2 separate regions of the Homo sapiens genome follow, and region 2 is linked to region 1. The links come from fine-mapping of genetic effects on gene expression. A gene starts in region 1. The other region holds a variant in brackets. All regions are shown on one strand. Distances are from middle to middle.

The links. PIP is the estimated chance that this variant, and not a neighbour inherited with it, causes the effect.
Region 2: its variant is the best candidate, but not a certain one, in a credible set for the expression of PAICS in testis (GTEx, PIP 0.53).

What each region holds. Positions count from the first base shown.
Region 1 is chr4:56,433,083-56,438,465 of GRCh38, forward strand. PAICS (phosphoribosylaminoimidazole carboxylase and phosphoribosylaminoimidazolesuccinocarboxamide synthase) reads left to right here and starts at 3,178. Exons shown (of 9, transcript NM_001079524.2): 1 at 3,178-3,246. The coding sequence starts at 3,231. PPAT (phosphoribosyl pyrophosphate amidotransferase) reads right to left here and starts at 2,533. Exons shown (of 11, transcript NM_002703.5): 1 at 2,268-2,533. The coding sequence starts at 2,395. RefSeq lists enhancers at 2,238-2,417, 3,265-4,148 and silencers at 2,508-2,707, 2,848-3,137.
Region 2 is chr4:56,340,632-56,346,014 of GRCh38, forward strand. AASDH (aminoadipate-semialdehyde dehydrogenase) reads right to left here. Exons shown (of 15, transcript NM_181806.4): 12 at 4,496-4,659; 13 at 2,931-3,053; 14 at 2,204-2,335. Among named protein-coding and RNA genes, the nearest start is that of AASDH, 44 kb to the right of the region's middle. The variant CATAT/C (reference allele first, on the strand shown) is at 2,734.

The DNA.
Region 1 (5,383 bases):
ATTGTATTTCCAAGACATAAGGGAGTGTCATTGTTCTTCCAAGCAGAATCAGTCCTCCCAAAGGATGAGCACTTTAGCTCATGTAAAATTTTGAATTGATTATGGGTGAGAACCAGCCCTCTTTGTGCACCTTAATGATTCTATGCCTACACAAGAGAAATGTTAAATTGTTTTTCAGTAATACATTTGTTCCTCAAAACCACATAATCACATCATTATTGCCCTTATCTGGTATTATTTAATCTTACAATTCTTTCACAGAAAAGCAACTATAGAAAACAGATATATGTAACCAGGAATCAAATGGTATTCATTAAAAAAAAAAAAAAAGAAAAAAAAAACCTATAACCATGAATACCAAGTATTTTCCTAAACTGGGTACTAAAACTCCAACCAGTGCTAACATGTAAGTTAAAAAAAAAAAAAAGCCTCTTTTTCTTCAGGCACACATTTAAAGGGAAGGAGAAAGGGGGATGAAAATTTCTTGAATAACTTTGGCAAAAAAAGTAAATATAGTGAAGTACAGTTCATACATATTTTCTACAGACCACCAGGCAACCCTAAAGACCTCTAGATTCTCCCTCACCCCCATGACAGAGTATCCAAAATAACAACTGTTTTTTTTTTTTTGAGACGGAGTCTCGCTCTGTCGCCCAGGCTGGAGTGCAGTGGCGTGATCTCTGCTCTCTGGAACCTAAGCCTCCCGGGTTCAAGCGATTCTCCTGCCTCAGCCTCCGGAGTAGCTAGGACTACAGGAGCGCATCACCACACCCAGCTAATTGTATTTTTAGCAGAGATGGGGTTTCACCATGTTGGCCAGGATGGTCTCGATCTCTTAACCTCGTGATCCGCCCGCCTCGGCCTCCCAAAGTGCTGGGATTACAGGCGTGAGCCACCGCGCCTGGCCATAGTTTCTAAGAATGTTACAAACTAATGTTGCTCACAACTACCACATAATCAAGAGTTTACTTTCTCCTTGGATTACGTAACTAATTTTCTCAATAAACTTTTTTTAAAAAAAACAAGAAATCTATTATGGTCAACCCACAATTATCCAAGATTGGAGCTACGCAAGTTAAAAATATTCTTTTTGATGCTTCCCACATTCTCAGCTCTTTAGTAAACAAGGAACACACAAAATGTGAAACTGAAATTGAAGTACCTGGGACAATGAAAACAGCAAAAAATACTTCTAATTTAAGTTTGGTGGAGGAAAAGCTAATCTTTTGGAATGCGTTTATACGTGTTGCACCCATTTTGCTGTTACGTGTTATTGCCAAGTTCCTTAACTGTAGTGTAAGTTGTTACCACTGTATTGCCTTATGGAAACTGTAATACTTTCAGTAAGAATATCAAACCCAGGTTTGTTTTTCTTATCCTAGTGTAATAATTTATATCAACTTCCAGTTAAGTCAGGTAGTAAGAAAAGGAAAGATCACCGAAGCAAAGTAATTTTTTTTAACTCGAAAGGATCTCCCAATTTTTCAAAATCAAGTGTATGGATCTTGGCATAGAGACACTACTCCCCTGTCCCCCTTTTGAAGAAGGGAGTTAATTTTTGTCATGTTATTACCAACGTTTTCATTCATTAGGCAAGACGTCTACCAATGAATCTTTTCCAGATGCACTGTTCCCTATGGTTGGCTTATTTCCATTTAATTTATGTGAGATCTACTACCAGTAGTCATTCTCAACATCAACTAGTCATCTTTCCCTGGGTCTGAAGTCTAGCATCCTCAAGTTCCCATAGCGATAACTACTTTCAAACCCATAATCTGCTCAATAGCTCTGCCCTTGCAAACAAAAGCTTGTGGTGGTTGGAGGCCCCGCGCGAAAACCTTTAGGTGTTGAAGGACCTGGACTGGCCGCCACGCCACACTAGCCTATTACAGGAGCAGCCACAGGCTCCGGGAGACTAGAACCCGCCTGCAGTCGGGGAGGAGCCCTGACCCAGCTAGACCAAGCAAACCGGCGGTTTACAAGCTGGCCAGCCTCTGGATGGGTGCACACACCGGGGGGCGGGGAGGGAGAGAGCCCCTAAAAGGCATAAGTGGCTGGGAGGGTGGGCAGGACAGGCTAAAGTTCATGGAAGCGAGGTGCCCCTCGTGCACGCCTAGGCAACCCGGTCGACGCCACAGGCAGGTACTGGCTTAGGTCGGAGAGGTCGGTCCTCCCGGGCCCTCGGGCGCTCATGAGAACGCCGACTGCGGGAAGCGGCTCCGAGAGATGGAGACGCACGCCCCCGCCACCCCCACCCTGTTGCTCACCGGTGCTGCAGCCCCACGAGTCCCAGAGTGATCACATGCGGTACATCCAGCTGCGTGGGCCACTCTCCTGAGGCGATGCACCCGAACACGCCACATTCCTCTCGGATCCCCAACTCCTCCAGCTCCATGTCGCCGCCGAAAGCACGTGGAAGGACCTGCCGCTGCGGCCAAGGTGTAAGCACCAACCAGCTGCCAGCTCGGCCCGTCGAGCTCAGAAGCTCGCGCTCGCGACAGGCTCTTCCTTCCCGAGGGTGGCCCCAGCTACTGCGGCGGCGCGCGCTGTCCCTAGGTGGCGTGGCCAGCTCAGCCCTGCTCCTCCCCCTCCGAGTCCACCAACGAGCGAGGGCGGAGGGGCGGTCCCGCGGCTGAGGGGCGGGGTCACGGATGCTGTAGGGTGGAGCTAGCCTTCCCCTAAGAGCTGCCTGGAAAGCTGTATTTGCTGCACGTGGAAATCTCCGTTATTTTCCAGCACCCAACAGTAGCGTAATGGGAGTAACGGACTTAACCTCATTTCTCTTTCAGAGCATTTAGCCTTCATATGCCCTTCCCTGCATGCTTCCCCCAGGCCGTCAAGACTTGGTACGCTCCAACTTCTGAGTCGCTCCCGCAGCCGAGAAGGGGCCGGGGTATGCGAGCTTCCGCAGAGTGGGGAGGGGCCGCCAGTGCGCGCCACTTTTCGCCTGTCCGGGCACTGCGCCAGCGCGGGGCGGCCCGGAGGCGGGGTCGCGTCTCTGCGCCTGCGCGGCGGGAAGCCAGTGGGGCGTTGTTTCGTCCGATATCCGCGTTTCAGTCTCCGCCCATACCCCTCCGGGTTAGGCGGCTGTAGCGGAGCTCGAAAAGAGTGGCGCAGGGTCGCGCGGCCCCGCCTCCTTCCCCGCCCAGCGAAGCTCTCTGACCACCCCTCTTTTCTAGAGTTCTGCCTCGCTTCCCGGCGCGGTCGCAGCCCTCAGCCCACTTAGGATAATGGCGACAGCTGAGGGTGAGTAACAGGGATCCGGGCCCTTCACGGTCTCCCTGACCCCCAGGCCGTGAGCTCGCGGCCACGTGCGAGCCGCGAAACTCTGTCCCGCCTCCCTGCAGCAGCGCCTCTAGGCAGCCGCGCGGGCGCACACGTGGCCCAGGCGCTCCCGGGCCTCCCCGAACTTTACTGCCTCGGGGATGGGGAGAAGGAGCAAAGTAGAGGAGAACGAGAAATGGCCAAGGGGTGGAAAGGTGCCTGGAAGTATTATTTATAATCAATAGCTATTGCAAAATACAAGCAAATCAGTCTTGATTCGTCAAAACCTGAGTCTTGCTTTGCCCGTTAGGTTAATGACCTTTCTAAGAAGGTTAATAATTGAAACTTTTGAAAGACCTGTCTAGAGGCCGGGCCTGGTGGCTCACGCCTGTAATCCCAGCACTTTGGGAGGCCAAGGCGGGCGGATCACCTGAGGTCAGTAGTACGAGACCAGCCTGGCCAACATGGCGAAACCCCGTCTCTTACTAAAAATACAAAAAATTAGCTGGACGTGGTGGCGCGCGCCTGTAATCCCCAGCTACTCAGGAGGCTGAGGTAGGAGAATCGCTTGAACCCGGAGGCGGAGGTTGCAGTGAGCCGAGATCGCGCCATTGCACTCCAGCCTGGGCGACAAAGCGAGACTCCGTCTCAAAAAAGAAAAAGAAAAACCTGTCTAGGGGGCGTGTGTGTAAGTAGTCTTTGATGCCATGGTGTGTGTGTGTGTGTGCACGCGCGCGTGAAGTAGTCTTTGATGCCACGATAGCTTGGGGTGTGTGTACGTGCGTGTGCGTGTTTAAGTAGTCTTTGATGTCATGGGTGTGTATGTGTGTGCGCGCGCGTGTTGAAGTAGTCTGATTCCATGATGGCTGGGGAGGGGGGCTGTTTTTAGGTAGTCTTTGATGCCATGATGGTGTGTGTGTGTGTGTGTGTGTGTGTGTGTGTGTGTGTGTGTTCGTTCCAGTAGTCTTTGATGCCACGATGGCTTTGAAGAACTCCAAAACCTTTAGGCAAAAAAGTTGCACTATCAGGAAAGATTGTTCTTGCTATTTATGCTGGAAAAAAACAAATGCTGGTTTTTTCCACACACCCAGTTGCTATATGTATAGTGAGGCAAATTGCTTTTGTGGCTGCTGGGTACATTCTTTTCCACATAGAAAGTAACTGAATTCAGATTTTAAAAAGCTGTAGACTCAGGCCGGGCGCTGTGGCTCACGCCTGTAATCCCCAGCACTTTGGGAGTCCCAGGCGGGCGGATCACGAGGTCAGGAGATCGAGATCATCCTGACCAACATGGTGAAACCCCGGCTCTACTAAAAATGCAAAAATTTGCTGGACGTGGTGGCGTATGCCTGTAATCCTAGCTACTCGGGAACCTGAGGCAGGAGAATCACTTGAACCGGGGAGTCAGAGGCTGCAGTGAGCCGGGATCGCGCCACTGCACTCCAGCCTGGCGACAGAGAGAGACTCTGTCTCAAAAAAAAAAAAAAAAAAAAAAAAAAGCTGTAGACTCAGCAAAAAAGATTCAGATGATATTGAGTATCAACTCCCTAGAATCAAGGCAAGGACCAGAATTTTTCTTGCAATCATGGTACCTGTACCTCTAAAATGGCAAATCTCTAAAATCTTTGCTCTTCCACTTCTTTCCATTTGTGTACCGTTGGCAGGTTGATTTTTCTTAAATGTCACTTTTATGGTCTCTAAAAGGCAAAAGTGGCAACAAAGGCAAAAATGGCATCTCTAGAGATGTTAAATCCAGTCTGTCCAGTCTGAAATCCCTTTTCATTCAAATCCTGAATACTGCTATCCCTTCTACCTCTTCAGCCCTAACTTTGATTTTTCTCTCCTGTGAATCCTTAGCTATGTTCCAGTCAGGTTAATTCACCAAAGTTTGTTTTTCATTATATACATTTTATTTATATTATTTTTCCCAGAACATTGCTGGCTAATGGAAATATAATGTAAATTTGTCTTCTATAAGCCACATTTTAAAAAGTAAAATAATAAAAAAAACTGGTGCAATGTGTTTATATATATATATATATATATATATATATATAAAAGGTTTTTTTTGTTGTTGTTTTTTGTTTGTTTTGCTTTGTTTTTGAAATGGAGTCTCGCT
Region 2 (5,383 bases), 92 kb before region 1:
AGCTAAGGCCTAAAAAGTATAGGCAACAAAAACAAAAATAGTTAAGTGGGACTATATTAAGCTAAAAAGCTTCTGCACAGCAAAGGAAACAACAGAGTGAAGAGACAGCCTGTTGAATGGGAGAAAATACTTGCAAACTATTCATCCAACAAGGGACTAATATATAGAATATGAGGAACTCAAACAACACAACAGTAAACAAATCCTATTAAAAAGTGGGCAAGGGAGATGAATAGACATATCTCAAAAGAAGACATACAAATGGCTAACAGGTATATGAAAAAAACACTCAACATCACTAATGATCAGGGAAATGCAAATCAAAACCACAATGAGATATCATCTTACCAAGTTAAAATGGCTATTACTAAAAGAACATAACAAATGCTGGCAAGGATGTGGAGAAAAAGGAACTTACACTGCTGGTGGGAATGTAAATTAGGGTAGTCATTGTGGAAAACAGTATGGAGATTTCTCAAAAAACTAAGAAGAGAACTATCATATCCAACAGTCCTACTACTATTTACCCAAAGACAAAAAATCAGTATATCAAAGAGACAACCTGCACTCCCATCTCCCATGTTTACTGCAGCACAATTCACAAGAGCAAAGATATGGAATGCACTTAAGTGTCCACCAATGGATGAGTGGATAAAGAAAATGTAGTATATATAGATGCAGTGAAATACTATCAGGCCATAAAAACCAAGGAAATCATGTCATTTGCAGCAACATGGATGGAACTGGAGACTTTTATCTTTTTTTTTTTTTTTTTTTTTGGAGACAGAGTCTCGCTCTGTCACCAGGCTGGAGTGCAGTGGCACAATCTTGGCTCACTGCAACCTCCACCTCCCGGGTTCCAGCGATTCCCCTGCCTCAGCCTCCCAAGTAGCTGGGACTACAGGCATGTGCCACCACACCCAGCTAATTTTTTTTTTTTTTTTGTATTTTAGTAGAGACGGGGTTTCACCATGTTGGCCAGGATGGTCTCGATCTCCTGACTCTGTGATCCTCCCACCTCGGCCTCCCAAAGTGCTGGGATTACAGGCGTGAGCCATGATGCCCAGCCATTGGAGATTTTTATCTTAAGTGAAATTAAGCCAGGCCCAAAAAGACAAATATTGCATGTTCTCACTCATATGTGAGAGCTAAAAAAGTTGATCTCAGGGAGGAAGAAAATGGAATATTAGAAGTTGGGGGCCGGGCGTGGTGGCTCATGCCTGTAATCTCAATACTTTGGGAGGCTGAGGCAGGTGGATCACTTGAGGTCAGGAGTTCGAGACTAGCCTGGGCAACATGGTGAAACCCCGTCTCTACTAAAAATACAAAAATTAGCCAGGCATGGCAGCATGCGCCTGTAGTCCCAGCTACTCGGGAGGCTGAAGCAGGAGAATTGCTTGAACCCGTGAGGCGGAGGTTGCAGTGAGCCAAGATCACACCAATGTACTCCAGCCTGGTAACAGAGCAAGATTCTGTCTCAAAAAAAAAAAAAAAAAAAAAAAAGAAGTTGGGGTGGGTTGGCTAATAAAAAAATAAAAACAGGTTAGTTAATAGGTAAAAACATATAGTAAGAAAAAATAAGTTATAATGTTCAGTAGCAGAGTAGGATGACTACAGCCAACAACAATATGTTGTATATTTCAGAACAGCTAAAAGAGAAGACATGAAATGATCCCAACACATAGAAATAATAAGTACTCAAGGTGATGGACACCACAAACACCCTGACTTAATCATTACACAGTCTATGATTGTAACAAAATATCACATACATACCCCATAAATAGGTACAAATGTCTGTATCAATTAAAAGAATCCAGGGGTTTTATTTAAACTTTCATAATCTCAATAGAAGTTATAATAAAACAGGCTAAAAACTGGTAATATTTTAAAAATTGGGGGAGATGACAAAAGAAGTGTAACAATGTTTGGGTAGAAATCTTTTAAATCTACTATGTCTTCTTTAAAAAATTAAGAAATCCATGGCTTCACAATTAAAATAGAACTACTTCTCAACACCGTGAGTTGAATAATGATGTTTAAAATGTTACTTCAGTTGTCACCATCTGCTTTGCCTTTAAGAAAAGTAAATTTAAAAAATATAAATAGAACTATAGATATATAAAATTTCTAGTTCTATTTTTTATATATACATTTATATATATATAAAAATGTATATATAAAAAATTTCTAGTTCTATTACCTGTTCTCCAAAGTGAGTAAAGCAGAGTAAATTCCCATCTACACAGCCAATACAAATATACTGTGAGCAACATTGTGGGGAAGAGAAGAGTGGTTTTCCACAGGAATGTTTCCAAATAACGTTCCCAGTAGCCTGTCACAGGAAAAAGCAATTCACAGCATTTTATGTCATCCTACTAATCAGTTACCCTTTAAAAAACAAACTCATACATCTCCTAGGGTTAGAACTAAAATAGCAGAAAATGCTGTAGTGGTATGCAGACATAAATGAAGCTGGTATACATATATAAAATTAATCAGTGCTATTTATGAGAACTAGGAAAAAGGCTTGCAATAAAAGCAGCAAAGAAAAAACTAGCACCTAAGAGTTATCCCTGTGATGGACATAAAGTTCTTAATATGATGAAAAAAATTTTGTCAATTTGAACCTGGGAGGCAGAGGTTGCAGTAAGCTGAGATTGCGCCACTGCACTCCAGCCTGGGTGACAGAGGGAGACTCTGTCAAAAAACAAACAAACAAACAAAAAAATA[CATAT/C]ATATATATATACAGGAATTTAAATTTTCTTATCTTTCTAGATCTCATGTCAATCATTTTTAATGAATTCCAGTTTGGTGTATGTGGACTACTACAATTAACTGAAAACTACTCAAACTTTCAAAGCTCAAAGCAAAAATTTTACAAATTTAAAGAAAAGTAATAAAATCAATATGTATTATTTTATGCCTACAGGATTTACAGCCAGTAAAAGTCCTCCCAATGTAGCAAAATACAAATGATGTGGAATCAGGTTCAAACACGGAGAGGAAAAGACAGTTCCTCCACATTTTGACTTCCAAACACACTTCTTTCTCTGCAAATAAGAAAACAAATTAATTTGTTCTTGTTGATGGTTAACAAATCCATATAACCTACCCTTCATGATATTATGTCTGTTTAGTTAATATAAGTTTTTATCTTTAGTATAAAGTACATGCCTACTGTGGAGAATCAGATTAGTATAAAGACAAAGGACACTACCCAGAGACAACCAGTGTTAACATTTTAGCATTTTCTCATTTGATCTTTTTGGGGTATGGGTGTGTGTGTCTGGGCGCACACATCTGAGAATATGTGTATATACACACACACGATCTAATATAGCTGAGATCATTCTGAATATATAACTTGGTATCATATTTTGCTCACTGATTTTGTAAAATGATTTAAATATAATTTTAATCCATAATATCCCATATGAACATAAATAATTTCTCTCTCTACCTTATCATTGAACGTTTTTTGGAATTTCTAGGTATTATAAACAACTTAGAAATAGGCATCTTAATGCATATATTTGACTATGTTTCTGATTATTTTTGCCAGGATTTCTAAAAAACGAATTTTATTGGATCAAGGATATGATATTGTTACCTATGGTCAAATCGTTTTCATTAGAGGCCTCACTAGTTACAACCTCTTACCACTCTCATCAGCATTTAATGTTATGATGAATATGTCTTCTAATCTAACACCATTTGTTTATCTCAAGAGTTTTTAATTTTCATTCCTTTGATTATTAAATTCATGAACTATTTATATACATTTACTAGCCGTCTCTTCTTTGGGGTCCTGTGTATTTATGTCCCTTGTTTATTTTTCTATCTGCTCTACATTTGTCTTATTAATTTGTATTTGATCTTTATTTTCATTAATACTTATAAATATAAATGAATTTCCACTTTTTTTACATTTATTTCAAAAATTTTCCCAGCTTAATTTCATAATTCTTACATAACATTTTAATTTTTATGTAATCAGGTCTTAAAACATCTTATTGATATCTTCGTCATTTTTTTCTACTGTCAAGATGATAATCCTAAATTCTTTAATTCCAAAACTCTGAGTAGCACACTTATTTGTGGTAAATTTGGTAATGAAGTTAAAAAGGTCTTAAGATATTAAGACTTAATTAATGCTTTATTCTTCCCAGACCACACAAGCTTGGGAAATAGTTAATACCTGTTCCAAGGCTCAACTACACCTGACAGTTACTCACTCTTCTTCTAAGTATTGAAATTTAATGCTTCTATGCTTATGGTATTAGACTAATGAGGTGAATTTTCTTTCTTTTTTTTTTTTTTTTTTTGAGATAGAGTCTCACTCTGTCACCCAGGGTGGAATACACTGTCACAATCTTGGCTCACTGCAACCTCCACCTCCCAGGTTCACGCAATCCTCCCACCTCAGCCTCTGGAGTAACTACCATTACAGGCATGCGCCACCATGCCCAGCTAATTTGAGGTCAATCCTTACATAAATATCTAAAGCATATGCGTGCTGGTCATGAGATCCAATGTAAATGAGTCCTGTGGTTGGATCCATGGTTGCCGAGCTTTTGACAGCATCTTCAGTAGTAAACATCCAGTATTTTTCTCCACTATTACTTTTCAGAACATAAACTAATCCATTATAACAGCCTACCAAGAAACAAAGCACAAAAGATTTGATATAGATATATTACTGGAAAATAATTCTTTAGCCTACAGCATGCAATTTATATTCAGTCCTCCTCTTATACATAGGCTCTATGATAAGCTCATCTGGCTTACATTTTAGCAATGTAAAGCAGAAACTGAATTAGTAATCACTTATGTAAAATATCTATTTAGTAGGTGTATCTTATCTTTTAAAAGTACTTCACTAATTTTTTTACATACTTATTTTTAAGAAGCGCTTCACTACTGAAAAAATAATAAAGTACACTGTGGTGGAGAGAGATTTTTGACACATCTGGATTCAGATTTCATCACGACTGTCACTGGGCATTTAAATCACCCAGTGTTGCTAAGCCCCAAATTATTCATCTGCAGAATGTGGAGTCATCTACTTCCAGGGTTATTGCAACAATTCAGATAATGTGAACAAATGCCCAGTGCATAGAAGGTGTTTAAGAAGTGCTAACGTTAATAGTCAATGTTCATTGAGCATTTACTATGTGTCAGGCGTTATTCTAAGTATGTTACATCTATTAATTCATTTAATCCCCACAGTGAAGTAAGTACTATTATAACCACATTTTATAGATAACAAAATTGAAGCACAGAGAGACTAAATTACTGGGGAAAAATTACACAGCTCATATGTGGCAAACCAAGATTTGAATCTAAGAAGTCAATCTCCAGAGCCTATGCTCTTAACAAC